Regions from separate parts of the Homo sapiens genome. Here region 2 is linked to region 1. The links come from fine-mapping of genetic effects on gene expression. A gene starts in region 1. The other region holds a variant in brackets. All regions are shown on one strand. Distances are between the middles of the regions.

The links. PIP is the estimated chance that this variant, and not a neighbour inherited with it, causes the effect.
Region 2: its variant is the best candidate, but not a certain one, in a credible set for the expression of MYLK in whole blood (INTERVAL, PIP 0.79).

What each region holds. Positions count from the first base shown.
Region 1 is chr3:123,877,810-123,893,889 of GRCh38, forward strand. It overlaps MYLK (myosin light chain kinase), which reads right to left and starts at 6,523. Exons shown (of 34, transcript NM_053025.4): 1 at 6,397-6,523. It also overlaps a transcript of CCDC14 not described here. RefSeq lists a silencer at 6,403-6,562.
Region 2 is chr3:123,681,824-123,697,903 of GRCh38, forward strand. It overlaps MYLK (myosin light chain kinase), which reads right to left. Exons shown (of 34, transcript NM_053025.4): 19 at 10,912-11,028; 20 at 401-487. It overlaps MYLK-AS2 (MYLK antisense RNA 2), which reads left to right and starts at 7,821. Exons shown (of 3, transcript NR_046629.1): 1 at 7,821-7,893; 2 at 9,754-10,011; 3 at 10,416-10,584. LOC105369194 (a long non-coding RNA gene) reads left to right here and starts at 10,993. Exons shown (of 3, transcript XR_924417.4): 1 at 10,993-11,099. RefSeq lists an enhancer at 663-1,480. The variant G/A (reference allele first, on the strand shown) is at 10,435.

The DNA of each region.
Region 1 (16,080 bases):
CAAATGGAAATTTAACTTGGACAATGGGGAAGTTTAGGAATACATCTGCTTGAGTCATGTTCTGTGAATGGACTCAGTACTTGGCTGGAAAGATGCATAAAGCTCAGGAGAAAAGTTAGAATGAAGTATACCTAGCCCTACAGAAGACATAACTGAAGAAGTGAGGTGAATGAGTGGAAAGTGCCTTCTCATGGAGTGGCACACAGCAAATCCCTTAGAATCTTCTCTGAGCACCTCCATTTACCCCATTAGCCAGTCCTTCCACCCAGATGTACTGAGCACCTGTGGTGTGTCAGGCACCAGGCTATGAGTAAGGATACAAGATGAACCACAGCTGGTGACCTCCAGGAGCACAGTGCCTAGCAGGACACTACCCTTACGACCACAGCACAAGCACAGGTTGCCAAGCACGTGTTCATCTGCCTACAGCCTCATCAGATGAGTAGAGAAGGGCTTCTCTGTCCATTTAAAGGTGCACAATCTGAGACCTGGAGATACCACGTCACATAGCAGAAGACAGTGCTGAAGCTAGCCCCCAAACCCGGGGCATCTTCCTGGTGTTTCCCACAGCCTCAGATGACATTCCATGTAGTCTGACCCCAGGAAAGGGGAACAGCACTCGGTATCCAGGGGCCCTGAAGCAGACAGATGGCAGTGATCACAGGCCAGATAAAGGTAGGACATTCACTCCTGCTCCCCATTGGACCCTCAGACTAAAGAGGACAGCCTTAAAGGACTCTAGAGAAGCAGGTGGGCAGATGAGGGAACCAATGTGTATCCATTCTTCCTGCCTATGTCAGGCCGTTCACCTTCCTATGCCATCACCATCCTCCACCAGGATAGGTAGTGATGAGAACTCTGGCTGATGCTGGCTCTACTACTTGGATTTTTTTTTTAGACGAAGTCTTGCTCTTGTTGCCTAGGCTGGAGTGCAGTGGTATGATCTCAGCTCACTGCAACCTCTGCTCCTGGGTTCAAGTGATTCTCTTGCCCCAGCCTCCCGAGTAGCTGGGATTACAGGAGGCTGCCATCACACCTGGATAATTTTGGGATTTTTAGTAGAGATGGGGTTTCACCACGTTGGTCAGGCTGGTCCTGAACCCTGACCTCAGGTGATCCACCCGCCTTGGCCTCCCAAAGTGCTGGGATTACAAGCGTGAACCACGGTGCCCAGCCACCACTTGGCATCTTAGGCCAGAGTTTCCTCTTCAGTCCAATGCAAAGGTCAAGTGGACCTGACCCTTAGTCCTAACACCCTGTGATTCCAGAACTAGGAAGTGAGCTACAATATATGAGGCATGAAAAGAGAACACAAAGCCCCAGAAACCCAAAAGTCTTCTACGGGCCTCTGGGCTTTCACTCTGGCCACCCAATTGCCTCTTAATATTTTTGATCGAGTATAAAATAAAACAATTTCAGATGTTTCAGAAATATTATTGGCAGCAGAGGGAAAACAAGGCCAGAATGAAAACCACCCCCAAAATAAACCTCAGGACAAGCACACCTGCATGTTTGGGAGTGCGCTGCAAGGTCAAAGGTGTTGTGCCAGGGCCCAGCAAGGAAGGAGCTAACAGCCTTCAGACACCGGAGCCAAATGTTCCTGCCTTCCTCTCTCCTGGCAAATGCTTACCCTCCCTTCCTCCTCTCCATTTTTGAGGCCTTCCTGCATCACTCTAGCCCCTGAATTTCTTGTCATCCTTTAATTCTGTTAATGAAACTTGGAAATTGCATGTTGTCCCTGTTTTCTAATTACCTATGTGTTAGCTCTCTTGCTACCCACCCAGAGTCTCTTAGCATAGACACATTACCTTTGTTTTTTGTTGTTGTTGTTTGTTTGTTTCTTGAGACGGGGTCTCACACTGTCGCCTGGGCTGGAGTGCAGTGGCGCCATCTTGGCTCACTGCAAGCTCCGCCTCCTGGGTTCATGCCATTCTCCTGCCTCAGCCTCCCGAGTTGCTGGGACTACAGCCGAGTAGCTGGGACTACAGACGCCCGCCACCACACCTGGCTAATTTTTTGTATTTTTAGTAGAGACGGGGTTTCACCGCGTTAGCCAGGATGGTCTCAATCTCCTCACCTTGTGATCCACCTGCCTTGGCCTCCCAAAGTGCTGGGATTACAGGCGTGAGCCACCGTGCCTGGCCCACATTTACCTTTGTTTTATAAGCCTCTACAGAGCTCAATAGAAAGTAGACATCATTAGTGTCTGCTGGTTGATTTACAAGTCATTATATAGACCTGGAGAACACTGCCCGGTATATATAATAAAAGCTATTCTTTGTTTTGTGCCTATTTATATTCCTATATTCATTTAATTTTTATAACCGCCCTCATTGTCAGATGACAAAACTCAAGTCAGCTCACAGAGGTTAAAACCCATGCCCAAGAACACCCAGCCAGTAAGTGAATGGGATGGAACTGAACCCAAGTTTAACACCAAAGATCACATTCTGCCTGGCTGCCTCCTCCTGCCAGAAACCTGAATGAGACCTACTATACATCAGAAATCCTCATCTCTGAAAACAAGAAAGGTAAACAGCATCCTCAACTATAAAAGCCCCAAGTTGCAGGTGTTCGGTTCCCCCAAAGATTATGAGAAATAACCCATAAGGTCCTGGATTAACAAATTAGCATCAGATCTGAGCGCCCAGAGCCAAGGGAAAAAAAATCAAGAAGCAGGTCTGAAAGAAAAGGAAATCCTCTCCTCATCCCTTTTCTTTTGTCTCCAAAGGGGCTTTCTGTCTCCAGAGGGCTCTGCACTGAAGACCCAGGGAAGGAGAGGAGCAGAGGGTGGAAGGGGGGCAAGGAAGTACCAACAGAGGGGGGATGGGGACAACGTGGGAAATCTAAGAAGCTGGATCTACACAAAAATTTCCACAGCTCCCTAGTGGGGTGCCCATTCACCCTCAGACACTGAAGTACAGTGAGCAGGAGGGCAGGGAAAAGAAGGTGGTGGGAGCATCTGGAAACACAGCCTTACCTTCCAGCCCATGAGGCAGCAACTGTTGCTGGCTCTCCTCCTGCCCCAGCTGACTGGGCTGGCTGTCAGTAAATTTCATGGGGGCTGCAGCCCTCACACACCAGGTGCATGCAACAAGGAGGAGGGATGCACCTGTTGGCCCGCAGTGCAAATACGGAGGTCCACCCACCTTGAGTTTGTGAGGGGAATGCATTTGCTCAACCTGTTGGCATCAAACGAATGGAAAAGTGTGCAGCCAAAACTCAAGGAAGAATAAAGAGAATCCATCTGCAGAATGGTGCAGGTGGGAGAGGGGCGTGGCTTGTATGGGCACTGCTTCCCCGCACAACCATGTCTGCCTGCTTGTAAGGTAGGAGGCTGGGGGAGCACAGGGAAGAGATAGAAGTCACATGGCATAGGAGCTCATCACAGTGACATCGTTCTGTCCCACTCTGGCTCACTGCTGGACGGTTCCTTGATTCTGAGCACTCAGGCCACCCAATAGACCCTGCTCAGGCCTAAGCATCCACATGGACATTTTCCATGCAAATGGCCCTGCCTCATGTCCTCTGCATGCACCCTCTGCTGGCCAAGTTGAGCGAGGACATTGTCTTTTGTTGGGAAAGGATACTTTTTAAGTGTTGTTTCTAAATTTTACTACATTTGCTGAAAAGACAGGACAGGAAGCTTTTAAGAATGAACAATCTCCCAGCCTGTGTGGGTTGGTTTGAGCTGTGAGAGGTGCAGCTGGGCTTCCAAGTAGGCTTATATTTCCAGACTCCCAAGTATTGTTCTCAGAAAGATACTAAATAAGACACCCCATACTCATGGGACACTGTACCCATGTCCCCAAGCAAGGCTGCATTCTGAAACCCCCACCCCACCTTATGAACTTCCTAAAAGACAGACAAGCCAACTAGTTGTGTTTCAAACTCTAGGCTCATCTTATATTTTGAGGATAAAAGCAAGGGGTCATTCTCAAAGACACTGAGTATATGGTGACCCCAGCGCATTCACAATCTATGCCTCTGAGACCAGCAAAGATCTCCCTAGCCAGAGACCCAGAACCTTTCCCCACCCTTGGAACTCAAAGGCCTCTCCCCTCTGCACCATCTGGGTCACCTCCTTCTCTGACAAGCCTTCTCAGCAGATTACCCCCGCCACCTGCCAGCCAGGAGCCCCTCCTCTGCAGTGACTGTAGCTGTCTGTCTACCATTTTCAGGCAGCAGGTGGGGCCACCTGGCCTTACCAGTTAGCCTAGGAATGTTCCAAGGCCTAGTCTGCTCTGCATATGTTTTCTAAGATCTGGCCCCTGGGGAAGCAGCCCCTGATGAAGGGGTGAGCAAACCTCACACAAACAGCAACTACTCTGGCTGGGTGCAGTGGCTCATGCCTGTAACCCAGCACTTTGGGAGGCAGAGGTGGGCGATCACTTGAGCCCATTAGACTAGTATGGACAACATGGTAGGACCCCATCTCTACAAAAAATCCAAAAAACTAGCCAGGTGTGGTGGCACACACCTGTAGTCCCTGCTACTCAGGAGGCTGAGGTGGAGGATTCCTTGAGCCTGGTAGGTCAAGGTTGCAGTGAGCTGAGATCACGCCACTGTACTCCAGCCTGGGCAACAGAGCCAGACCCTGTCTCAAAATAAAAAATAAAAATAAAAATAAGACAAGGAAACATCTACAATGCTGCAGCTACCCTCCTCCTCAGCTAGCCAGTTATTACACAAAAGAAACTGAACATGGGAGATAAACCAGCATAAATGCTTCCCCACTGTGGGGTGGTTCTCCAAGCTCATGCTTAGCTGCAAATGAGGTCCAGCATCCTTTGTATCATCAGTGAACAATGAGACAGACCTGCACATCTTGGCAAAAAAAGCTCTTGTGCATGTCCCCAGAGTACCCGCTACCCAATCCAGCATCCAGAGTCCAACCACTCCGGACCCAGGACCAACTGCTCAGGTTCCTCCCAGACCCAAGGCTCCTGGCCCACTGAGAGTGGGAGAAAAAGGGGTAACCTCACTCTGGGCAGGAAGGAAAATTCCATGCTGCCCTAGAGCACTGTGGTGCCAGCAGCATCATCCTCCACAGTCCCACAGTGTGCAGGCGGGGAAGAGACTAAGAGAATCACGGAAGAGAGAAGGAGGTCAAGAATTTAAGAGAAAAGAAAACAGTTCTATTAGAACCCTAAATGCCTTGTAGGAACCTAGTAAAGTCACCAGATGCACCTACACTTCTCCCAGAGACTTGCATTGTTGATTCCTGATTCTTTGAAGTGTGGGCGGGGTTCCCCAAATGGTCCTCCTAAGCCCACCATCTGGAAATAATTTATTGATAAGTGCATTTTGACAAAAAGTATTCCATTCAGGTGGAGAAGAACACAGCCTCTCTTGGAAGGGGGATGCAGCTCCAGGGCAGGCTCTCAAAGGCTGTGGGGTGGGCGGGTCATTGCATATACTCTGGTCTTTGCACTTGGGGAGAGGAGGGATGGTAAAAACCAACGGCCTGAGGTCTGGCATCATGCCCACTGCCCAGGTGTTTCCCTACACCCACCCAGCTCCCTGAATCACAACAGCTAATTTTACTCCCTCTAGACTCTAGTAGAGCTGGGTCTTCTCCTTCTGGCTACGAAATAGAAAGTGCCCCGCACCCCAACACACACACCCCAATCTAAAAAAAATATATATCCTTGAAACCATTTCCCCATCAGCCCATCTTCACATCTGCAATGCCACTCCTAGAAATTCAGTCCTTTGGGTCTTGAAGGGTTTTAGTTCCATAAGTTCCAGGGAGGGGTCTACCTCAACCATTGACAACTCACATCTCCTGAGAAGTTTATCCAAAACTTTCCAACTGCAATCATCGGCGAACAAGGTCCCTCAACAATGGGACCCCAGTTAACGCGAAGGAGGCAGAGCGAGGTAAGGAGCTTAAATGAGGAGTATGGAGTAGGAACAAGTCTGCAAAGCCCGCGCCCCAGCTTCGCCTGGGATGGCCAGGTCTGGCACTCGCGGGCCGCCTTCCCCGCCCTACCTTCCCGGAATCACATTTGGGCTGGAAGGACCTTCACGTGGCACCCCCTTCCCAGAGGCCGTCACCGAGTCCTCTAGCGAGGGTCTGGGAGCTGGGAGAAGGGTCCGCTTCTCCTCCGCCCCTCAAATCAAAGGCACCCCCTTCGGATGATTCCTAGAAAGGCAATCGCATCAGTGTCCCCAAGCACTTCATCTCCCCAAAAGAAAACTCGTGCAGCCTGGCGTCACTGGGGTCGTCTCCTTACGCCCCTGACTCCTCGCCGCACCCCGGGGCCCCTCTCCATTAGGGGAGTCGGGAGGCACAGACGGTGGGGGTCCCAGCCCCCACCCAGAACTCCCACCCTCGGAGCCTTGACTTCCAGGGCCCGCGCCTGGACAAAAGCATGGGGCGGGCTCACTCACCCGCGCGGCGAAGGCGGCCCGGGAGCCGGGGCACCGGCGCTCGGCGGGGCGCCCCGGCCGCAGGCGCACAGCGCGGGCTCCGAGCTCGCTCAGCGCCCTGCTGCCGACCGGGCGGCGCGGGGAGCCCGCGAGGCGCGTCCGGGACTGGGCAGGGCGGGGCGGGGCGGGGCGGGGCGGGGGTGAGCGAACCGGCGAGAGAGAGAGCAAGTGGGAGAGCGGAGAGCGGACGCGCGCTGAGGAGAGCGAGTGAGAGCGCGGCGCTACGGGGTCAGGACTCAAACCACCCGCTCCAGCCCCCATGCACTGATTTGCATGACATTTGCATAGCGCTCGGGGAGTGGACCTGCTGCCCTTCCCGCCACGCCCACCCGCCTTCTGCCTCGGAGTCCGGAGCGGAGAATCCGCAGCCAAACCTAGCGCCAGACCCGGGCCCCCCTCGCACTTATCCTGCACCGCCCCAGTTAACTCCTCGCAGGCGGCGGTCAGCGGGCTGGTACTGTCTTGGTGCGTGTCTTAGTCCTACACTGGGAGACCTAGGCCTTAGGTCGGGGTCTGATGCTAGCTTCGTGAGCGTGCATGAGACACTGGCTGCCTCTGGGCCTCAGTTTTCTAATCTGTAAAATGAAGATGTCAGCGGAACCATGGGGCTAAAGTTTTAGTGCTGGAAGGTTGTCTATGTAGTTTTTTTCAGACATCCTCCAGTGGTGCAACTCAGCCCCATGGTTCCTCTGACATCCTCCCTTTGTGTGTGTTAAGAATCTCTCATTGGTTTGGAAGATACCTACAAAGTTCTTTAAATTAAAAAAGGGGAAAGGGGAGGGGGGGGAGGGGAGGGGGAGGAGGTGTTTCTGGTTTTGGCTTGCTTTATATTTAGTTTGCACCCAATATGAAATATTTTATAGCTTCTGATCTCTTCACTTGGACCTTCTTTTGTTTTTTTTAAAAAAACTGTTTACTGCAGGTTAAGGAGTGTTTTTAAAAATTTTTTAATTGTAAAATAAAACATAAATACAGAAAACCACAAAAAACAAATATATAGATATATAGACTAGTGAATTATTATAAAGGGAACATCCTTGTAATCACCACCTGGATCAAGAAATAGAACTCTGCCAGCCACCCCAGGAGCCTCTCCATGTGCCCTACCTCAATGACAACCCCCTTTCTCCCTCCTCCCAAAAGTAACCACTAACCTGACTTTCATGTAGTCACTTCTGCTGCTTTTGTTTTTCTTGGTATCTTCCAAGGGTGCACCTTACCCCTCCCCCCACTCTTTTTTTTTTTAATTTGATTTGCCTTTTCAGTCTTTTCCTTACAATTATTTGTTAAATAACTTAAGCCCTTGATCTGTGAGGTTTTCCAGAGTCTGGGGGTTGCACATTCATGAGGCAATTCAGCATGTTTCTCTGTCCTCTGTATTGACAGCAAGTTGGCAGCTGATCCAGGGTCTTCCTCAGACTGAAGTTTGATGTCTTTTGTAAGATTATAGATGGTTGTGTGTTCTTTTCTTCAAGAGGTACATGATCATGATGTCTGGTGTTTGCTCTTTTTTGAGGTTAACAGCCGTCGATGCTCAATTCCTAGATTCATTAATTAATTGAAGTTTGCAAAATCATGGTATTCTAATAATTTTGTTTTCATTTATTAGTTCATAAGTGGATAAGGAGATGCTTCCTCTCATCTACTATTTGATTACCCTGAGATAGGAAAGGCACGATGAATACCTGCTTTTTTTTAAAAAAATTACCCAGTTTTCAAGTTAAGGAATTGATTCTCTGTCATTCTTAGATTTCTTTAATATCATTATAAATTCATGAATTTAAATATATTTGATAGGTTTCCATCTACGATATTAGAGCTCAAATTGTCCCATCTTTGGCCAGTAGGAGCTTCTTCAATATGGCTCCTGGCTCCTTTTGATAAGATTCTAGTAGTCTTTTTTTTTTTCTCTCTCTCTCTCTCTCACTAGTGTGCAAAGAGCTTCAAAGACCCTAGAAGTCTTTGATAGCTTCCTTGCTATCTGATATGACAAGATGTTCCAGGCACATCTGTACATTTGCTGCCTCAAACCTGGAATCAGCCATTTCTCCAAGAAGCTCTAGTTTTTTTGTTTTTTCTTTCCTTCCTTCCTTCTCTCTCTCTTTTTCTTTCTTTTTTTCTTTCTTTCTTTCCTTCTTTCCTTCTTTCCTTCTTTCTTTCTTTCTTTTCTTTCAGATGGAGTCTCACTCTGTCACCAGGCTAGAGTGCAGTGGCACGATCTCGGCTCACTGCAACCTCCACATCCCTGGTTCAAGGGATTCTCCTGCCTCAGCCTCCTGAATAGGTGGGATTATAGGCACGTGCCACCACACCCAGCTAATTTTTGTATTTTTAGTAGAGACGGGGTTTCATCATGTTGGCCAGGATAGTCTCAATCTCTTGACCTCGTGATCTGCCCACCTCGGCCTCCCAAAGTGCTGGGATTACAGGCATGAGCCACCCCGCCTGGCCAGAAGCTCTAGTTTCTTTTGTTGAAATTTTAAGATAACAATATGAGCACTAGGAGTATTCATTGTTACTAGGTTGGTAACTGTTTCTAGGCCTTTTCAATAGACAGAGCTACTAAAGAATACTTCATTTTTTTATATTCTAGAGAAATATTATTCTTCATAATATTTTCATCAGTTTATATTATTTCCAATTTAATTTCAGGACTGTAGTTTTTACTTAACATATATTACATTAGGACCTCTTTTCTTTCATGTAGAGAATTCTGGTTCTCAAGGACAAAAGGGAGGATGAAATTAGAATATCCCAATTTACTAATTTGCTTTAGTTTGCATTAAACATATAATAATAATCTCAGAATAACAATATTAATACTACCATCATCAGTTTTGATTCTTGAAAACAGTTTTTTTTGCATATGCTATCCATCTTTTATAGTTATACTCTATCTAAATTATCAGCTTCTATAGCCATCTATACCATAATCTTCCTATTTAACCCTAATTTAGTCTTAATTTTACAGTTCTACAATTCTAATCCTAATTAAAGTTCAAATATATATTTAATGCTTACCATTAGTTCCTTATGTTTATGTATCTTTAGTCATTTTGGTTGTCTGAAAGCTTGTCCTCTACTAGATTCCTTAGGAAGGGCTCATGGAAAGAATATGCTCTGAGTTCTTGCATGTTGCTTACAGTTTGTTCATGCCATTTTACTTGAAGGTCAATTTTGTTGGATTCAAACTACTTGGTGTCTTGGTCCAGCTGGGTTGCTATAACAACAACAACAAAAAAAAAAAACACAAAATAAGTGGCTTATAAACAAGAAACATTATTTCTTATAGTTCTGGGGGCTGGGAAGTCCAAGATCAAGGCTCCAACAGATTCAGTATCTGTTGAGAGCCCTCTTTCTGGTTTGTAGACGGCACCTTCTCACTTTGCCTAGATGCCCAAATAACTTTATCTTTTTCTTTCAAATCCAGTAATTTTATTAGAATGTTTGTTGGTCATTCTAGTTTGAAAGTAAACAGTGTGTATTTCTTTCAAAATGTGGTTTCAAATACATATATTTTGTTAATTTCAGGAAAATTTTCTTCAATTAAAGTCTTAAATATTTGTTCTGTTTTGGATTGCTTTAGACTGCTTCTCTGGAGACTTCTATTATCTGCATATTGAACCTTTTTTGTCTATCTTCAACATTTGTCACTTTCCCTTAAATCTTTTTAATTTCTTTCTTCATTTGTTTTTAAGTTTATAAATTTCCCTCCTTTTTACCTTATTTTCTTTTAAGTTTTTATTAGTTATATTTATGTGTTCTTGTGTTCCTTATAGGTCAATCTTTATTTCTCAAATGCTTTTTAAAATGTTTAATTCCAAAAAAAAATAAAAAATAAAACGTTTAATTCTTCTGTGAGTTCTGTTCTAATTTCTGAGTTTCTCTAATTCTGATGTATGTTGTTCTTTCATGTTTCATGTCACTCAGTGTGTATTAGCTTTTCTAGGACATTATAGCTTTAATTTTTTTGAGAATATCTTTCTGGAGGTTATTATGATCTTTATTCACTTTGTTGTAGTAGCTATATGAGAGTTGACCTTAGTATTTTTTTTGTTGATCATTTTTACATGAATTTTGTTTTCTTGAACTTTTAAAAGGAGATTTGGTCCAGACAGTTTTTCAAACTTCACAAAGCTTTCCCGTTTGTTGTTTCTGAGTAGTGTCAAAAAATATATATGGTGGCTGGACTTCTAAGATTTCCTGGCTCTGTTTCCCTCACTCACTTTTATCTGGCTCTTCTTTTTCTTTCAACTTGCATTAGTCAGTTTTCACACTGCTATAAAGAGCTACCTGAAACTGGGTAATTTATGAAGAAAAGAGATTTAATTGACTGACAGTTCCTCAGGCTTAACAGGAAGGATGACTAGGGAGCCTCAGGAAACTTACAATCATAGCAGAAGGTGAAGGGGAACCAAGTGCTTTCTTCATATAGTGGCAGGAGAAAGAGAGAATGCAGGGGGAAGTGCCATACACTTTTAAACCATCAGATCTTGTGAGAACTCACTTATTATCATGAGAACAGCAAGGGGGAAATCCACCCCCATGATCCATGATTTAATCACTTCTCACCAGGCCCCTCCTCCAATTCAACATGAGATTTGGGTGGGGACACAAATCCAAATCATATAATTCCACCCCAACCCCTCTCAAATTTCATGTCCTGCTCACATTGCAAAATATAATTATCCCTTCTCAATAGTCTCCCAATCTTAACTCATTTCAACATTAACTCAAAAATCCACAGTCTAAAGTCTCATCTGAGACAAATAAATCCCTTCTGCCTATGAACCTGTAAAATCAAAAACAACTTAGTTACTTCCAAGATGCAAGGGGGATATAGGCATTGGGTAAATGCTACCATTCCAAAAGGGAGAAATTGCAGCCAGGTGCAGTGGCTCACACCTGAAATCCCAACAATTTGGGAGGCCAAGGCAGGTGGATTACTTGAGGTCAGGAGTTCAAGACCAGCCTGGGCAACATGGTGAAACCCTGTCTCTACTAAAAATATTTTTAAAATTAGCCAAGTGTGGTGGCACGTGCCTGTAATCCCAGCTACTTGGAGGCTGAGGCAGGAGGATTGCTTGCACTGAGGAGGTAGAGGCTGCAGTGAGCCAAGATCGTGATACTGCACTCCTGTCTGGGCAACAGAGGGAGACACAATCTCAAATAAAAAAAAGGGAGAAATTGACCAAAACAAAGGGGCTACAGGCCTCATGCAAATCCAAAACTCAGCAGGGAAGTCATTAAATCTTAAAGCTCTAAAATAATCTCTTTTGAATTCATGTCTCACATCCAGGGCATGCTGATGCAAGGATGCTCTTCCAAGTCCTTGGGCAGCTCCACCCCAGTGGGTCTGCAGGGTATAGCCCCTGTGGCTACTTTCACAGGCTGGCATTGAGTGCCTGCAGCTTTTCCAGGTGCATGGTGCAAACTGTTGGTGGATCTACCATTCTGGGGTCTGAAGGATGGTGGCCTGCTTCTCACAGCTCCACTAGGCAGTGCCACAGTGGGGACTCTGTGTGGGGGCTCCAACTCCACATTTCCCCTCCACACAAACCTAGTGGAGGTTCTCCATAAGGCCTCTGCCCCTGCAGCAGACTTCTGCCTGGACACCCAGGCATTTCCATACATCCTCTGAAATCTAGGTGGAGGTTCATGAATTAGTCCATTTTCAAGCTGTTGATAAAGATATACGTGAGACTGGGAAGAAAAAGAAGTTTAATGGACTTACAATTTCATATGGCTGGGGAGGCCTCACAATCATGGTGGAAGTCAAGGCAGAGCAAGTCACATCTTACATGAATGGCAGCAGGCAGAGGGAGGGCTTGTGCAGAGAAACTCCCATTTTTAAAACCATCAGATCTTGTGAGACCCATTCACTATCATGAGAACAGCACAGGAAGGACCCATCCCCATGACTCAATCATCTCCCACCAGGTCCCTCCCACAACACATGGGAATTATGGGAGCTACAAGATGAGATTTGGGTGGGGACACAGAGCCAAACCATATTATTCTGCCCCGGCATCTCCCAAATTTCATGTCCTCACATTTCAAAACCAATCATGCCTTCCCAATAGCCCGCCAAAATCTTAAATCATTTCAGCATTAACTCAAAAGTCCACAGTCCAAAGTCTCATCTGAGACAAGGCAAGTCCCTTCCACCTATAAACCTGTAAAATCAAAAGCAAGTTAGTTACTTCCTAGATACAATGAAAGTACAGGCATTGGGTAAATATGGCCATTCTAAATGGGAGAATTTGGCCAAAATAAAGGGACTATAGGCCCCATGCAAGTCCGAAATCCAGCAGGGCAGTCAAATCTTAAAGCTCCAAAATGACCTCCTTTGACTCCATGTCTCACAACCAGGTCACACTGATGTGAGAGGTGGGTTCTCATGGTCTTGGGCAGCTCTGCCCCTGTGGCTTTGCAGGATGTAGCCTCCCTCTTGGCTGCTTTCATGGGCTGGCATTGAGTGTCTGTGGTTTTCCAGGCGAATGGTGCAAGCTGTCAGTGGATCTACCATTCTGGGGTCTGGAGGACAGTGGCCCTCTTCTCACAGCTCCACTAGGCAGTACCCTAGTAGGGACTCTGTGTCGGGGCTCTGACCTCACATTTCCCTCCCACACTGCCCTAGCAGAGGTTCTCCATGACTTCCCTGCCCCTGTAGCAAACTTCCACCTGGGCATCCAGGCATTTCCATACTTCCTCTGAAATCTAAGTGGAGGTTTCCAAACCTAAATTTTTTACTTCTGTGTACCTGCAGGCTCAACACCATGTGGAAGCTGCCAAGGCTTGGGGCTTGCACCCTCTGAAGCCACAGCCCAAGCTCTATATTGGCCCCTTTTAGCCAGCTGGAACAGCTGGGACACAGGGCACCTAATCCCCAGGCTGCACACAGCACAGGGATCCTGGGCCTGGTCCATGAAACCACGTTTTCCTCCTAGGCCTCCTGGCCTGTGATGGGAGGGGCTGCCACAAAGGTCTCTGACATGGCCTGGAGACATTTTCCCCATTGTCATGGGGATTAACATTTGGCTCCTGTTACTTATGCAAATTTCTGCAGCAGGCTTGAATTTCTCCTCAGAAAATGGGATTTTCTCTTCTATTGCATTATCAGGCTGCAAATTTTCTGAACTTTTATGCTCTGCCTCCCTTATAAAACTGAATGCCTTTAACAGCACCTAAGTCACCTCTTGAATGCTTTGCTGTTTAGAAATTTCTTCTGCCAGATACCCTAAATCATCTATCTCAAGTTCAAAGTTCCACAAATCTCTAGGGCAGTGGTAAAATGCTGTCAGTCTCTTTGCTAAAACATAACAAGAGTCACATTTGCTCCAGTTCCCAACAAGTTCCTCATCTCCATCTGAGACCACCTCAGCCCGGATTTCATTGTCCATGTTATTATCAGCATTTTTGTCAAAGCCATTCAACAAGTTTCTAGGGAGTTCCAAACTTTCCCACATTTTCCTGTCTTCTTCTGAGCCCTCCAAACTGTTCCAACCTCTGCCTGTTACCCAGTTCCAAAGTTGCTTCCACATTTTCAGGTATCTTTTCAGCAGCACCCCACTCTGCTGTTACCAATTTACTGTATTAGTCCATTTTCACAATGCTAATATGCTAATAAAGACATACCCAAGACTGGGAAGAAAGAGAGGTTTAATGGACTTACAGTTACTCATGGCTGGGGAGGCCTCACAATCATGATGGAAGGCAAGGAGGAGCAAGTCACATCTTACATGGATGGCCGCAGGCAAAGAGAGAGCTTGTGCAGGGAAACTCCCATTTTTAAAACCATCAGGTCTCGTGAGACCCACTAACTATCTTGAGAAAAGCACAGGAAAGACCCGCCCCCATGATTCAATCATCTCCCACTGGGTCCCTCCCACAACACATGAGAATTATGGAAGCTATAAGATGAGATTTGGGTGAGGACACAGAGCCAAACCATATCAGTTCCCAAAAACTCAACTCTTGCCTTCTGTGCACCCCCAGGCCCAACACAACATGGAAGCTGCCAAGGCTTGTGGGTTGCACCCTCTGAAGCAATTGTCTGAGCTGTATCTTGGCCCCTTTTAGTCACAGCTGAAGCTGGAGCAGCTGGGACTCAGGGTGCCATGTCCTGAGGCTGCACAGAGCAGCCAGGCCCTAGGCCTGGCCCATGAAACATTTTTCCCTCCTAGGCCTCCAGGCCTGTGATAGGAGGGGCTACAGTGAAGGTCTCTGAACTGCCCTGGAGACATTTTCTCCATTGTCTTCAATATTAATATTTGGCTCCACTCATGCAAATTTCTGCAGCCAGCTTGACTTTCTGTCCAGAAAATGGGTTTTTCTTTACTACCGTATGGTCAGGCTGCAAATTTTCTAAACTTTCACAAGAACAGCACAGGGGAAATCCACCCCCATGATCCAATCACCTTCCACCAGCCCCCTCCTCCAATTCGACATGAGATTTGGGTGGGGACACAAATTCAAACCATTTCACAACTCTTCCCTGTCATGTTAATTTTTTCACTTTTTTATTGTAGCAAAATATACATAACCCAAAATTTATAATTTTAACCATTTTTTTTTTGAGACGGAGTCTTGCTCTGTTGCCCAGGCTGGAGTGCAATGGTGTCATCTCGGCTCATTGTAACCTCTGCCTCCCAGTTTCAAGTGATTCTCCTGCCTCAGCCTCCCAAGTACCTGGGACTATAGGTGCGTGCCACAACACCTAGCTAATTTTTTGTATTTTTAGTAGAGATGGGGTTTCACCACATTACTCAGGATGGTCTCAATCACCTGACCTTGTGATCCACCCACCTTGGCCTCCCAAAGACCTGGTATTACAGGCATGAGCCACCGTGCCCTGCCAATTTTAACCATTTTTAAAGTATACAATTTAGTAGCATTAAGTACATTCACCATATTGTGTAACTATCTATTTCCAGACTTTTGTCATAATCCCAAACAGAAACTTTGTACACATTAAGCAACATCTCCCATTTCCTCTTCCCTCCAACACCTGGTAACCTTTATTCTACTTTCTGTCTCTATCATTTTGCCTATTCTAGATACCCCATATAAGTGTAATCATATAATATTTATCCTTTTGTGTCTGTCTTATTTCATTCAGTGTAATGTTTTCAAGGTTTATCCAGGTAGAATATATCAAAACTTCATTTTTTTATAGCTGAGTAATATTCATATCTAGCATTATTTTGTTTATCCATTCTTCTGTTAATGGACATTTGGGTTGTTTTTACATTTTGGCTATTATGAATAATGCATAATATGAATATTGGCATATGAGTATTGTTTGAATGACCATTTTCAATTCTTTTAAAAATAAAACATACTTAGGAATGAAATTACTGAGTCATATGTCTATTTTTTTTAACTTTTTTGAGAAACCACCGAACTGTTTCGATGGCTGTACCATTTTACATTCTCACCAGCAATGCACAAGGGTTCCAGTTTTTCCATATTCTCATTAATATATATTATTTTCTATTTTTTGATAGTAATAAACTTAGCAGGTATAAAGTGGTAGTCCATTGTAATTTTGATTTGCATTACCCTAATGACTAAAATTGTGGAGCATTGTTTTTGAGTATCTTCTTTGGAGAAACGTCTATCGAATTCCTTTTCCCATTTTAA
Region 2 (16,080 bases), 200 kb before region 1:
AACCAGGAGTGATGAGATCAGAGTTACAATCCAGAAAGAGCCCCTGGGAGGGCAGGATCAACTGGGGAGAAATTAGGAGGAGCTCTCCTAGAGTCTTGGTGGGAAGTGAAAGGGCATGAAGGAGGTTGGGCAGGGGAGGTAGATAGGAGCTCAGATGAGATGTGCAACACCACCCAGGCTGGAGACAGGCTGGAGAGAGCACTGGGATGGGGTGAGAAAAGGCCACTGGCTCTGTTATTGGGAGTTCACTGGGCACTTCAGGGTGTGGGCAGACATCAGACTTCCAGGGATTCAGGCAAGAGTGAGTGACCAGAAAGTGGGGGCTCTGAGGCTGCCCTCAGTCCCCGGGGTGCCTGCCCCTGCCTCTGCCTCTGCCTGGTGAAGCTGGGCGAGTACTCACTCTCAGTTCCTAGCACGGGAGGAAGAGAGCTCTTGGGCCTCCGGGATTTCATCTCTGGGGCCTTGGTGTTCTCACTGGCTGGAGCATCTGGAATGAAACAGGTAACAATAAATGTTAGCAGCTGCTGAGGAAATGAGCAAAGGGGGTCTCTCAGTCAAAATCCCACCTCAGCCAAACTCCTCCCCAACTCTGAGGGCCCTTTGTGCCCGCTGGGCAGAACAGCGCCTGTGTCCAGGCAACCTATTTCACTCTCCATGAGAGCATCAAAGAAGGACCGTCCACTACCCTGGGCCTGATTAATCCAGTGGGGACAGCACCGTCACCTTGGCAAGATGAGCGCACAGGCTGCCCAGGGAGCTTGGGATGCTCCCCCGGAATGCCATTGCTGGCAGAGTCACCCCTTGCTCACCTTCCCTGGCTTTCTCCTCCATCAGGCCTTGTCTCCCTCATGCTAGAAATCTTGGGTCTCCTCTCCAACAGGGGCGGGAGGGGACAGGGTCCCCGCCCTTGGGATCATGGACTAGAGGTGGCGCACAGCTTCTGATTTCTCTGACTTTCTTCTGCAGACCAAACTTTGCAGTGACAAACCAAACGGAGGCCTCTGAGCACACAGCCAGCATGCCTCCCACCTCTGAGACGGGGTCTAGGCCCCACTGTGGGGCTTCTGCTAGACCTCCCCCAACAGGCCCAGTGAAGCTGGGCACAGCTGCCTGCTGGGCGGACCTAAAGATGCTGGGCGGTGCCTGCCCTCAGGCTCTGTTCCACACTCCCTCTGCCAGAGGAAACCCTTCCTCATGGAGGGCAAGCAGGGCGACATCACTTGGCTGGGCTGGGCTGGGCTGGGTGGAAAGGCCCTCACTGGCCCCCAGGACACTATGGGGAAACCATCCAGGAACTGGGATAAGGAGGAGCTGGTTGAGTGGCTATCACTGGGCCCCAGCACTTTCACTGGCCTTCCTTTCCCCACAAGGAGCACTCTTTGGGGACGGCGCTGAGAGAGTCTCCCCCTTGAAGCCCCCTCCCTGGGCATCCTTTTCCTGCTCCTGAGGAGAGGAAGCTAAGTGGGGGTGGGGGTGGGTGGGGGGACTTTCCAGCAGAGGCTCCGCCACATTCCTGAGGCTTGGCTGGGGAGGAAGTGCCCTCTCATGGTCCGCCTCCAGGACTGGCAGTCAGGGCTGATCTTGCCTAGACTGGGCTCCTGGGGCTCTGAGGGGTGGGCGCAGGGAGCAGAACTGGGGGCTGGGAACATACTTCTCCCAGCAAGTGGACTCTGAGCTGCCTCTGGATGCATTTCTCCTTCTGGGAGGCATTTAGGCCCCTCGCCTTCTCCAGAACATGGATCTGCCTGCATGAGTCCCTCTGCTCATCATCACCCCGATAGGCTTTCTTCCCAACCTAGTGCCTGCCTCCTCTCTGCTATGGGTAATCCAGGGAGGAGGCCCTGTGCGGGTGTTGCAGGCTCATGGCAGCTCAGAAGCAGACAGGCCTCCGGGGGCTGTGGGGGCAATCCCCCACCAAAGACAGCCGAAAGCCCTGCATGCACCATTGTGGGCCTTAAGTAGGACTACTTAGCAGTATGTGACGGGGTGTTGGGGGGAGCAGACAGCCAAAGCAACCCTTTCAAGTAGCACTTGACACCAAAACGCTCCCTTGCCTCCACTCCCCACTGCAAGCTGAACTCCTGCCACCTCCCATACGGGCAAAGGAGCCCCAGATGGCACATCAGGGGTCCCTGCTATCTGGAGTGGACACTCTTAAGCTCCTCAGGAGGCTGCCTGTAACCCAGCATGCCAGTTCCATGAGGACACAGAGAAGCAGAAAGCCATGGGGCAGGGATGATTTCATTTTCTTACACTGGACATTTTCCCCAAGGATCGTGGTCATTCTCAGCTACAGAAAAATCCTCTGGACATAGTTATTTGTCAGCCTCGGTGGATCTCAGCCTCAGCTGTATGTTAGAAGCACGTGTGCCAGGGTATCACACCCCACAGGTCCTGGTTTCATTGGTCTGGGTTGGGGTCTGGGCACGATATGATCCAGAAGCTCCATGGATGACTGATATTTGGCCAACAGAAAACTCCTCGTCTCTCCTCAAGCACAGGGAGTGCGCAGGGAGTGGCTCCAGGACTATTCCAAGAGGCAGAAAAACCTAGCAGAGCCTCCCCTTGATATCTGGGGATGAGGGTGCCATAAACCAGGGGCATGGAGTCAGTCTAAGCTTCCCTTGTCCGGGCCTCTCCCTTCTTCCCTTCCTTGAAGACCAGCATTTCTAACAGTCACCAATGACAATGTAAAGAAAGGTGTACCCAGTAATTGTTTTGTTTGGCCCCTTTTTTTTTTTGAAATGGAATCTCACTCTGTCACCCAGGCTGGACTGCAGTGACATGATCTCGGCTCACTGCAACCTCTGCCTCCCAGGTTCAAGTGATTCTCATGCCTCAGCCTCCTGAGTAGCCTCCTGAGTACACGCCTGACTAATTTTTCGTATTTTCAGTAGAGATGGGGTTTCGCCATGTTGGCCAGGCTGGTCTTGAATTCCTGGCCTCAGGTGATCTGCCTGCGTCAGCCTCCCAAAGTACTGGGATTACTGGCGTGAGCCACGGCACCCGGCCCTTCTTAAGGAAGAGGAGTACAGGGCAGACTATGTATGCAGTTCTGCACTCCTTGGCTTCAGCACTCATTCTCCTGGTGAGTCTTGGAGCATAGAGGAGGGAGAAGAAGAAGGATCAGGTTTGCTTTTTTAACTGATGAGTAAGCTGAGGCACAAGAAAGCAAAGTATGAGAGGCCCAGTTTTCCTGGGCTCCTGAAAGAAGGGCAGCAGGTACTGAGACTCCTTTCGTCCTCATGGGGTTGTGTTGGGCTTTACTTCCAAGCATCACCACAGTAGAGGCCAAGAGAGTACAGCTCTAGCTTTGGCTTTGTCATCAGCAACCTTGGGAACTTGGGCAAATAATTTAAACTGTCCCATCTCTGTTTCCACATCTGTACAAGGGAATCACTTATTTTCTCTACCTCATGGTGTTTTGACGCCCAAAGGAGAGAACACATGCAACGGTGTTTTGGAAAGCAGGAAATGATCATTTATCAGCCCAGCGTGGTGGCTCACGCCTGTAATCCCAGGACTTTGGGAGGCCAAGGCAGTTGGATCACTTGGACCCAGAAGTTCAAGACCAGCGTGGGCAACATGGTGAAACCCCGTCTCTACAAAATTTACAAAAATTAGCCAGGCACTGTGGCATGTGCTTGTAGTCCCAGCTGCTTTGGAGGCTGAGGTGGGAGGATCACCTGAGCCCACAGAGCTTGAGGCTGCAATGATCGTGCCGCTGCAGTGATCATGCCACTTAACTCCAGCATGGATGACAGAGTGAGACCCTGTCTCCAAAAAATGAAAAAAAAAAAAAAAAAAAGAAAATGAAAATGATCACTTATGAATTAATTCCTCTTGATAGCCACATTCCCTTACCTCCTTCTGAATCAGCTTTAAAATTTTCCACCTTCAGAAAACACTCCCTGCCCTGCCCCATCTGCCTCTGCCTCCGTCCTCGGCCCTAGGGTGCTGGGTTTTCACTGGACGTGTCAGTACACTACCCTGTAATGTGCTTTGAGTCTTATTTTTAGAAGTTTCTGCAGCACTTTATCTTTCCATCTGGCCATGAGGAAAGGGGCTGAAGTCCCCCTTTCAAACTAGGCACACCCCAGACTCGGAGCCCCAGGGGGTGGCCGCGCTCCACTTGAAGTGTCAGCACGGTGGGGCTGTGCATGCACCACGGGGCCCTGCCAGGGATGCGGAGCCAGCAGACCTCCATGCGAACTGCAGCAAGGAGTGGGCTCGAAGGGCCATGTGCCTAATCAAAACCAGCTTTGTGCTCACATGGCTGCCCAGGGGATAAAAATAATAGTAATATAAGTTTAAGAGCAGCTTGTATTTTCTATTTTAATCATTTTGTGATGAAATTAAACTCCATTTCTAGATCTAGGCCCCCAAGGCTGAAGTCCTTTGCTTGTGTCCCCAAAGAAGTGTGGGGGAGGAAGATGGAGGTGTGAGGAAGTGGGGGGCCTCTACATTGAGAGGAAAATGTGTCCTTATATAGACAATGCCTCACCCCTCCCACTCCTGGGCTCTGGACTCAAGCTCTCTGGGCAGCGTTTTTTTTTTTTTAATCTCCCCCAAGAGGCTGGTTCCCTGAACTCTGACCCCACGCAGGGGGCATGAGGTCTTGGGAAGCTTCTGGGAGGGGTCCAGCTTCTAGGGGCCCCCAGTGGGGCAGGGCAGAGGGGCTGGGCTCCAGCCTCTCCCTGGGTTGGCTCATCCCTCCTTGCTGGCCTCTCTCTCTGACTGAGTGCAAGCAGTGTGCTAGCGTAGTAAGGAAGAGAGATCAGGATGCTTGCGCTTTCTGGCTCTGCTGCTTAGGAGTTGTGAGTCCCTGGGCAAGTTCCTGAACTTTTCTGAGTCTGAGCTTCCTCACAAGGAAAACCGAAATAACATCACCTCAATAGAAGAGTGAGGGAGGTGTGGCCAAGTCGTAAGGTGATGGCTGACATTTACTGGGTATTGACTCCATGTATGCACGGTGCTAAGTACTTTGTATGCTCAGATCAGGTTGAACTACACCATTCGCCAGTATTGAAGTGTTTTTGACCTACAAAAACAGCAATTTTATTTAGTTTCACATAATACCCGTTAGTTGTCTGTGATGATTTAAAGAATAAATGTGGGCCAGGCGCGGTAGCTCACGCCTGTAATCCCAGCACTTTGGGAGGCTGAGGCGGGTGGATCACCTGAGGTCAGGAGTTTGAGACCAGACTGGCCAACATGGTGAAACCCCTTCTCTACTAAAAATACAAAAATTAGCTGGGCGTGTTGGCGGGTGCCTGTAACCTCAGCTACTTGGGAGGCTGAGGCAGCAGAATGGCTTGAATCCAGGAGACAGAGGTTGCAGTGAGCCGAGATCATGCCACTGCACTCCAGCCTGGGCAAAAAGAGTGAAACTCTGTCTCAAAATAAATAAATAAATAAATGTGGGGGTGGGAGCAGACTTAGTAATATGGCAGGGCTGAGGCCAAGAAAGGAGGGGTGGATCAAAATCAGCTCAGCAATAATCAGAAGTGCCCAGGGGCCAAGATAACAGTGGATCACAGTGGTTAGGCACCAAGGCTTGGGTTTAACTTCCCACTCTGCTAGTTAGGGTGACCTTGAGCAGGTGACTCAGTCTCTGTTTGCCTGAGATGAGGCTATTGTTACTATCACTCCCCTGAAGCCCTCTTGCAAGGTCACCAATGACCTCAATGTTGGCAAACCCAATAGCCAGTGCTCAGGCTCATCTTTATTTGGCAGCAGCACCTGACCCTTCCTTCCTTCCTTTCTTCCTTCCTTCCTTCCTTCCTACCTTCATTCCTTCCTTCCTTTCCTTCCTTCCCTCCTTCCTTCCTTCCCTTTCTTCCTTTTCTTCCTTTCTTCTTTTTTTTTGACAGGGTCTCCCTCTGTCCCACAGGCTGGAGTACCGTGGTACAATCTTGGCTCACTGTAGCCTCAACCTCCCATGCTCAAGCTGTCCTCCTGGCTCATCCTCCTGAGTAGCTGGGACTACAGGCATGCCCCACAGCATCCAGGCAACTTTTGTATTTTTTGTAGAGACAGGGTTTCACCATGTAGCCCAGGCTGATATTGAACTCCTGGCTCAAGCAATTCACCTGCTTCTCAAAGTGTTGGTATTACAGGTGTGAGCCACCACACCTGGCCTGGCACACTAATCTTGATCATTCCTTCCTTTTTGAAGTTCTTAGCATTTGGTTTCTGGGACACCCCCATCTCCTGGGTTTCTTCCCATCTCACTGGAGTACTTCCTTCTTAGTCTTCTTCGCAGGCCCCTGTCCTGCCCCTGCCTCTCTCTCTCTCCCTCTTCTTATAGCCACCTCTGTACTCTCCAGGGACCTCATTCAACCCCAGGGCAGTGAATGGCCTCTGTGTGTGGATGGCTCCCTGTATCCCACCTCCAACTCTGACCTCCCCCTCAACTCCAGGTTCACCTAAACACCTGCCTATGTGACAGGACCGCTTGAGAGGTCAAATAGCAATCTTAAACTTCACATGCACTAAACTCTTGATCGTGCCCCCCAGCCCCACCATTGGTCTTCACTCCCCCATGAAAACTGAGTCATCTTTAACTTCTCTCTCTCTCCATACCCAGCTCACCAGCAACTCATATCAGCTCTACAGCCAAAGAGGTTATGAATCTGATCACTTCCTGTCCCTATTGTGGCAACCCCCCATTGTGCTCCCTGCTTTCCCTCTGACTCATCCTGGGTCTGGTCATCACATGGACATGAGTGATCCTTCATAAATGTCCAGTGTTGGCCCATAACACTTAGAATAAAATCTCATTTTTTTTGTCCTAGCCAACACTGCCTGGATCTGGTCCACGGTCCTCCTCAACCTCACTTCCTACCATCCTGCCCCTTGCTCATGGCTCCACCACCCTGGCCTCCTGCCTCCTGAAACGCCTTAAGCACAGTGTCCTCAGCTCAGGGCTATGCTCTTGTTGTCACCTTGTCCCTCTTCCTTCCCTGCTTCCTTCAGTCTCTGTTCAAATGTTCCTTCCTCAGAGGGGCCTCAGTGACCACCCCCTCCAAAAATGGTATTCTCTCCCCCATTACCCTGCTTTGCTTTCTTCATAGCTGGTGACATTACCTGAGGATATGACACAGCTGTTCACCTGCATTACTGCCTCTTTCCCACTAGAAAAGTCCCAAAAGCTGGAACTTTTCCTACTTCATTTACTGTTTTAAAACCAGCTCCTATGGCAGTGCCTGGCACAGAGTGGGCACTCAGATATTAGTTGAATGACTGAGTGATGGCATGAGTACCCACTGGAGTGTCCCTTCCCATCACAATCATGCATGACCCTCTGTGGTCACAAAGCCCTGGTCTCACTGGTACCAAAAGCTGGATGCCCTGGCCAGGGTGGCTGGGGACAGGAGGCCTGAGTTGAGAATGACTGGATGAGCCAGTGAGGGGCTAAGGTGTTTTTTGAGTCCTCTCATGGGATTCTGGCCTAGGAAGGACTTAGTTTCCTCACTGCTCATCTGGGTTGGAATGAGAGGAAAGGGGTTACTGAGTCCCACGTGCAGAAGGACCTCCCCACAGGGAGGACTGTTACTCAGGGAGGTCTGGATCACTCTGGGAGCGGGCCCCACCATGGTAATTCACTGCCCGGGGAGGCTGTGTCAGGCTGTGGAAAGGAACAGGTTTCAGAGCCAGACCACTGAGTCCTGCCAGGATATTTCATGTTGTAATTCACTGTGCAGGGTGGAGCCCCAACACCAGATCTACACCTACTGTCTGTGGGGCCTGGAAGGCAGCTGACCCTTGGTGAGCCTCAGTTTGCTCACTGAGAAAGACACCCTGCCCAACTGTTGCATAGACTGAAAATGCAAAGTGCACAAGAGTCTCTGGCCAGGACAGGCATTGAAGGTCAGCTTGTTCTCCTCCTGGGTGAGTTTTCGGGCAAGTCCACGTTTACTCTAGGTTTTAGCTCCCTTCTATGTGGCACAAGTTAACCCTTGTCTTCTGCTGAGTTCAGAAGGAAGGGTGATATGACCATAATCAAGCAAGTTCATAAACACCCCTTTTCTTAGGAAAAAGACCCAAACACATGATTAAAATAGCCAGCTGTGCTGTGTTATAAAGGTTACATCCCTTATCTTTATGATATGAGGGAATCAGTAGTGTGGGTAATGCTATTTTAGCCCCATTTGCCTCATTTTTATGAGATTTTGAAAGATATGTTGGCCTCAGATGTATGGTCTCGATGGTGTTTGGCACAGGATGAGTGAATGATAGCGACTTTCAGGGGCCAGGCCAGCCCTGCTGAGTGGCTGGGGAAGCCAGTCTGAAGTCAGCACCAGCTGTAGTCCCATCGCCTAGTGGAGATGGACCTCATTGCCCCATAAGAGGGATGAAGGCCTGGTTCTATGCAGAGGTTGGGTGGGCAGTTGCAGCTGGAGACAGGCTGGAAGAGCCCACACAATGGCTGGGCTTGAAAATTCAGTCATTGTTGCTGCTTACGGCAAGTAGTTCTTCAACGTATTCTGATTCATGACTCCTTTTGAGAATTTGACTAAAAACTATGGACCCCTCTCTTCAGAAAGATGCTCCAACCCACATAATGCAACATTTTGCCTGTAATTTCAGGGGAGGCACAAACCCACTGGGATCCCCAAGTCAAGTATGATGCCTTGGGGAGTAGGGAGAGCTGAGGGGATGAGGGGACAGAATGAGGGCAGGAGATGTAGCCTAGCCAGTGGGGTGGAGCACCAGACGATAGAAAGGCGACAGGGGAGCTGTCAAAGTGACAACAGTCCTTTACTACTTTCCTAGAGAGGCTCTTGATGAAAAAATAAAGCTAAATGTGGGCAAACAGGATGCTAATATATCTGTAAGTATAGCAACAGGGAAAGAAAAGCAGGGGGAAGAGGCCACCCTTATCCTTTCTGTCAACAAAACCAAACCCAATGGACTGAGAGTCAGTCCTGTTATCTCAGCTGGGCTCCCTCCTATCACTTTTCTAGCTCTTCTTCCAAGACCCAGCTCCCAATTTGCAGCTGGAGGCCTAACTCTGCATTTGAAGGAATTAGGGATAAATAATGATGGTCATCAAGATTAGTGGAGAGGACAAGGGAATCTGCCAGCAGACTCTGGGCAAACAAAGCCTTTTAAGTTGCAGAATGAATTCCCCAAACCTTAAAAAAAAAATCCCCAAGTGTATTCAGTAGGGGAAAAGGAAATTTCATCTTGAAAACAAATCTAGAAAAGGTGCTGACATTTTACAGATAGGGAGAATGAATTGCTCTCCTGCCTTCAGCTAGCCATGTAAACAGGACCTAAAGAGGCTCCGAAAGCCGATAACCTCCTTCACTAGCTCGGGAACCAGTGTGAGTCCCAAACGAGCAGAGGGGTGTTAGACGTGGGCTTCAAGGATCATGTTTTCAGAAACGCTATACTTTACAGTGCAGCACCTGTATAGAAAGAAGCAGGACTGTGATCTGGGTGGGTGACAGCCTGGGTGAGGAGAGACTCCCACACAGGAGTCATCAGCCACAGCATCCACTGTGCAGAACCTCAAAATGTGTCCCATGCCCCCTCTGAATTGAGCATAAACTTGGACACATCAAGTCCGCTTCCTTAGACTCAGAGCCCCTATAGCACATATACGCACGATCTCCAAGGAGAAGTACACAGTATTAGATGAGTTCAGCTTACCTTTCGGCTATTAACAATTAATTCGTGCTGCCATTGTGTTTTTATAAAAAAGACTTTCTTTTCCACCTCTCTCCCATTCATCATGTTCCATAGAGCTCAGCTCTGTGATCAGGAAACCAATTGTAAAGTCCAGAATGAGGACACGGGCTCTACATGGTGTGGAATGGCAGTGAGACGGGCTAGGACTTCAGAACTCAACTGATCACACACAGGAGGGAGAAGAACAACCAAGCTGGGCTTCAAGATGCCTTATTTGGACACTAGTTTTTGATGTGTCTCTGATGGTTATTAACCAGACATTTCAAGGGCAAGAAACTATTTCCCCAAAACTACCTTTTGAGACATTTCCAGGTAAGTGCCAAATACAAAGAAATGATCCTGGGTTGTGAGTCCTGGGATGGGGTTCTGGCCCCAGCTTGGCCCTAAATGGGCCAGAGAGCCCCCCTCCAAAATGCATTTCCTCTCTGGATGCCCTCAGTTTCTTATCTGTAAAATGAGGGTGTTCATCTAAATCATCACGAGGTTCATCCTACTTCTCAGGTTCCAATTCTATACTCCCCAGGAAGGAGAGAAAAAAGAGTCATGAATGCACTTCCTGCATTTCCTTAGGACAAAGCCCAGTTCCTCGCAGCTTGGCACTGCCTCTTCCTAACACAGAAACTCCGCTAAGACCTGGCAGGCCTGCTTTCTCCCCGATGTGTCCTCCCACCTCCCTCTGCAGTATTATTATTACTACTACCATTTTGTTTTGGCAGAGGCTGCCCTGTCCTCTCT[G/A]TCCAGAGACTCAGCCCCGACTCACCTCCTCTAGGAAGTCTCCCACACGGACCTCGCTCTGCTCCCTCCTCCTCACGGCTGACCCTGCTGGGTCGTCCTGCCAGCTCGGACACTTGTTTGTTGTGGCTTTTGTAAAATACTCTGTAGTCATTTTCCTGTGGGTGTGTCTTTTCTACTGCCCAGTGCCCCAGCTTCCCAGCTCAGAAGGTTCTGGGTGTGGGGATCAGGACTGGGAGGGGGACAGGACAGCCAGGGGAGGGGTGAAGCCATGTAGGTGATCAAGTAGAGCTGCCACTTTCCTTCCTGTCTCTTTTTCTTTTGGCAAAAGATATTCATTCATCCAAAATGAATGCCTTTGGGTAGGGAGGGCAGTGTTGGAGGCAGTTCTGTCTGACAGGCAAGGTATGGTAAGGAAGGGAGGGGCTGAGAAATGGGACCCCTGTGTATGGGTGGCGGCGATGGGTGGGCACGACCTACCATCCACGGTGACTTGGCAGGAGCACTCCGCCTGGCCAGCGTCATTCTTGGCTACACACTTGTATAAGCCTCTGTCCTCAGGCAGTGCCTTCTCGATGGAGACGGAGCAGAGTGAGCCTGGGGAGGAAGAATTGTGGAGTGAACCAGGTGTGGTCGTAGTACCTGCCCTGGCATCTGGAGCGCAGCAGGTGAGTGTTACTCGCACGGGCAGCCTCTGGGAGCCCAGAAGCCAGAGGCCTTGTGGGAACCAATCCCCCACTCCTCACCAAAGCCAGGGAACTTTCTGCTTATAACCCATGTCCAAAATAACTGATCCCTAAATACGTTCCTTCCTGATACCTCCTCCCCCACTCCAAAGAGTCCTCTTGTGGGGACATAATAGAAAGCTGCAAAAGAAGGGAGAGAAATAGCCTCTGCCTTTGGAGACCATCCAATACAATACAAGGAGATGCACACAGGCCCTGCCCCCTGGACGTCACCAAGAGAGAAAAGGAGTCCGACACAGGGTTACAGACCTGTGTTAGGAACAGTGACAGGTGAGGAGGTCCCACTTTGTTTACAGCAGTGATGCTGTGACTGCATTCTGGAAAAGGGAGCTTTGAAGCTTTGAGCAAAGAAGTGGGTGGAGGAGGCTAGGAGCCCTTGTCCAGGAGGGGCACCGGCCTGTGGGAAGATCTGTTGGGAGGTGGTGACTACACCCAGGAGCTGACTTTTTAGGAAAGGTGTCTGAGCTGGAGAACCACGGCCAATGAGGGGGACTGGACCTGCAGAGGGGCCCTCTGGGGCTGCCTCCCTTCGGAGTTGGGTCTTCTGGTTGCCCCAGAGAGAAGTGGGGATGGCCTTTCTTCTCCATGGACTCTCCCCTGGGCCTGCCTTCACTCCCAGCACCATCTTCTGGCCTGGTTTGGGGAAGGAGGTGTCAGCTAGGCACACACAGGAATCTAGGGTCTCGTCCTGGCCCCTGCCAGCTCTCTCATCCCAGAACTGGTTACTTCTCCTCTGGGCCACCCCTTGGGGAGGTTCCCTCAGGGTGTGGAAAGAGGCCTGCTGGGCCAGGCAGAAGGGCAGCAGTTCCTTATTCTTGCTTTCAGATGCACAAACAAGTAAATAGCAGGGCATCCTGCTCAAAGCTGCCCCTGTTGTCAGGGAAGCAACCGTCACACAGGAGGACAGAGCCAGGGCCACATGCACTTTGCTGCCTGGAGCTCCCATCTCATGTCCCACAAGCCACTGGCATTGGGAGGGAAGAGCTGGGTGCATTCTGAGTGGACACCAACTACTGTCCCTGCCCCCCATTACACAAATGCACAGCCTTGACCAGCAAATACAAGGAGATTAGAAAGAGTAAGGATATCAGTTCTGCCCAGAAAACCTCACTAAGGCTGGAAGAGGAAGGAAGGGTGTAATATTCCCCTTTACTCCTTGCCACCAGGGTACTGTTTTAAACAGAGAAACCTTCATCCTATAAACCACCTGGGGCAAGAGGGCTGATCTGCACCCCACTCCCCACTTCCTATACCCTTATACAGACCCCAAACCTCGGGAAGGCTTCACTCTGTTCTCTTCCCTTTGTAGTTAGGAGTCAGAATTTGTAGAAACTGTAATGGAGAGGATTTAGGCTGGAATTTTAGGAAGTCTGTCATAAGAGTAAGAATCGTGAGGCACAGGAGTGGGGAATGAGGATAACCATGTCCTGGAGAGAGAACTTTCCATTCATCTGGGTGGGCGGGAGGATGCCAAGATGACCTCTGGCCCCAACTAGAGGGGCTCAGAGGCTTAGCAGAGACCAATCCCATCTGGAAATTTTCCCTCAAGTCAGGGTGGGGCTAAGGCTTTGGGAACAGATATCCCACCCCCAACGCACATCCTGTTCAAATCCTTGATTTTCTTTCAGTTTCAGTCCCTCAGCTGCCTTGAGTCTTAAGTCAAAATGATACAAGCTGCAAAGACAGTACACAGAGAGTAGAGGGGCATGTGGACCCGGCCCCTGCCTCCTCTCCCAGGGCAAGGCATGGGGCAGGCAGCTTTTCCAACCTGCCCAGAGCCTGGACCCCTGGCCATGTGCATGGGCTTGGGGAGGCCCCCCTAGCAGGCTTGCAGGCTTGGCTACCCCAGATGAAGAATCTGGTATTTCCTGTGGGACAGTTCATTCTTGACCTCTAGAAGAAAAGCTGTTTCCCAGAGGTTTTTTTTTGAGAAGCCTCAGCCTGGTGGGGAATTCTGAGAGGGAGATGAGGGGGATGGGAGAGGTCAGCATCACTGCAGAGCTCCGCCTGGGAGAGCCCCTCAGGGCTGTGGTGGAGTAAGCGCTCCTGGGTCTGAAGCTCCCCCAGCTCTCTCCTTTTCTGAGTTGGGGGCAGAGGGGAGGAAGGGGATGTGGATGGAGGGAGGGAGCTTCCTGGAGGCTCTGCTATAGGGCTGCCTCAGTCAGCCTACCCAGCCCACCTGGCAAGCCCAGACAGTAAGACTCATCTCCAGGTCACCCCTGCAGGCATGGTGTCCTCCTTGTTCCCCCTAATCCCCCAGGCCTAGGCGGACCTCTTCTGTGCTCCCAACTCTGAGCTCACCCATGTCAAAGCACGGCTCACAAGGCCATTGCTGACCTGCATGCCTGTCTCCCACACCAGCTCTCAGAGGGCAGTGACCCTGTCTAACACCACTGTTTTTCCTAAGCCTGGAATGCAGTCACAGTAAAACATATTTGTCATTCTGAGAAGGATGAAGGCATATTTCTGTAGCAGGTGATCTGGTAGGATCTATGTAAGAAAAGGTCACAAACAGTTAAATATAACTTACTATTGAAAAAGATAATATATAGTTTCTGAAAAAAGAAAATTCAGAGTTCTTTGAGTGGATTATGCACACAACAAAGGGCATTAGAATAATGCCTTGCTCATAGTAGATGCTGCATAAATCCATTTTTCGTAGGATGAACTTACATGGGTTTTTAAAAAGCCTTTGCAAAATTCTACCCTGAAGGCAATTAAAAATGAATTACCTATTCACAACAGCAACAAAAATGAATCCTCATTGTTAGACTCGGAAAAGTGTTTTGCCAGGAGGAGGAGCCTGGCCTGGAGACAGGAAACAAAGCATAAAGATAAAGCTCTTCTCAGGCCACCACAGAGCTCCCCTCAGCTCACGGGACCATCGGCCTCCCACCACCCCTCAGCAGAGGCAGGTCCCGGAAGGGCTAGGAAAAGACTTGGGGGCAGAGGGCAGGCCCAGTTGGTGGTAACTCTGAATCCCATCAGCCCTGCAGCTCTAGGGGTACAGGAAGAGGAAGGACACCTCCACGTGTCTGTGTCCTGCCACAAATCAACTAGTGGTGAACTCTAGCCCATGGCTGTCAAACCTCTTCTGCTTTCCTCAGCACGAAAGGGGGTGAACTAAATGGGGTGATGTAATCCTGTTTGGGTGGGGGTCTGTGGGCTATGAGCCCTATCTAAGCTACAGACATCAGAGAAGTCCCCTGAAACCTATAAACAGCACGTCCACTAGCAGTTGGTGCACGCAGATACACAGGTTGATGGGGAGGGGACAGTGCAAGAGTCTCTCGTGGCCAAAGGTGGGTGACAACAGGAAGGCATCCTGGAGGAAGTGAATCTTGTTTGTAGCAGAGCTGACAGGGTGGGGATCAGTGCAGTGGAGCAAAAAGGGCTCCAAGTCAGGAAGCCGGGGGCAGGGCCAGTGCTGAGCTGAGTGTGAAGGATGCAGGACGGGAGGCCAGCGGAGCCATTCCCTCACCTTCCCCTAGAAGCCTCCTCCAACCACCGGCTTCCTTATTCCCACTGACACGACCACTGAGACCCCAGCCACTCAGGCACCCACACTTAGTGGTCTTCCATTCCTTCATCTTCTTTACCTACCCCCACCCCCATCCTGCCCTTCCAAGCCAGGCAACAGGTGCCATTACTTCTATCCTTGCTTCTTGAACTGGTCATTCCCTGACTGTGGTTGTGGCTACTACGCTAGTCTAGGCCTCACCATCTTCCTCTCGACCTCTTCAGTAGGCTCTGTATTTGTCTTTTGGGCACAGAGTCCACCAAAACCCCTAAACTGAGCTTCATGTACAGTGTTCTTCATCCCAAAATCTTGCATGATTCCCTACTGCCTTTAGACTGGAATTCCTTGGCAGAATATAGGATGAAACTGGGGCCATGTCATCCTCTCCAGCCCAGAACAAGCTGTTAGCAGGACGCCTCTGCTGCTGCGGGGCCCCCGCCTGGAAGCCCGTCCCCTCTGGCCTGTCTTCGGGGCTTAGATCAAAGTCCAGCACTCAGCTCCCTCTCTTCCCACTTCCAGCAGCTCCTCCCGACACACTCATAGCACTTGTCAGCACTTGGCTGTAACAATTTTATCACTGTGAGTGTGTCTTCTCCTTCCACATCTATTGAGAAAAGACTCCCTCCACCTCTCAGAATGCCCTACTGCCTGAGGAGGGACCTGCTTAAATGGTGACTGATAGATGAAGCCTTAAGATAAGTTTTTTCCTTAACAAAACACTGGGCTCTTGAAGTCTTGGCGAGTGAAGGGACAGAAGGTGGGGCCGATTTTTTGAGACAACGCACTCTCCTGTACTGAAGCAAGACAGGCCCATTGCAAGGTCTGCTTCCACCACTGCAGGGAAAATACCAGAAACCTGGCAAGGCTAGGGGCACCATCAGTGTTTCAACCTTTGGACAACTCTTAACAAAATCGAGGAGTAAATAGTCATTAGTGTTTTCTGTTGATAGACAAATTCTCAGCTGCCACCAGTACCCTGATAAAATAATAGGAATTAACTAAGAGGTCATATAGCACGGTGGTCTAGGCACGGGAACTCAGCCACCTGAGTTCAAATCCCAGCTCTGTTACCCCCAGCACCTTGCATTTGGCAAGGTACTTAACTTCTCTGTTAGGTGGACAGTACAGTCATTGTTGGGAGGATTAAATGGGTGAAAAGTGTAAGAGGCCTAAGATAGTGTCTAACACATAGTGTTCAACATATGTCAGCTATTCTTTAAACACAATTTAAAAATATTTAGAAGATGTCTTACAGTTTGATTTGGGGCTCTCTCTGGAATCCCTTTCCACCTCTCCTGGTCTCTCTCTCCCCTTCGTGTGCAGCCTTCCTTGGATCATTTCTTCTGCTGCTGCTCTGGATCTGAACTGTTCCCTCTGGGACGG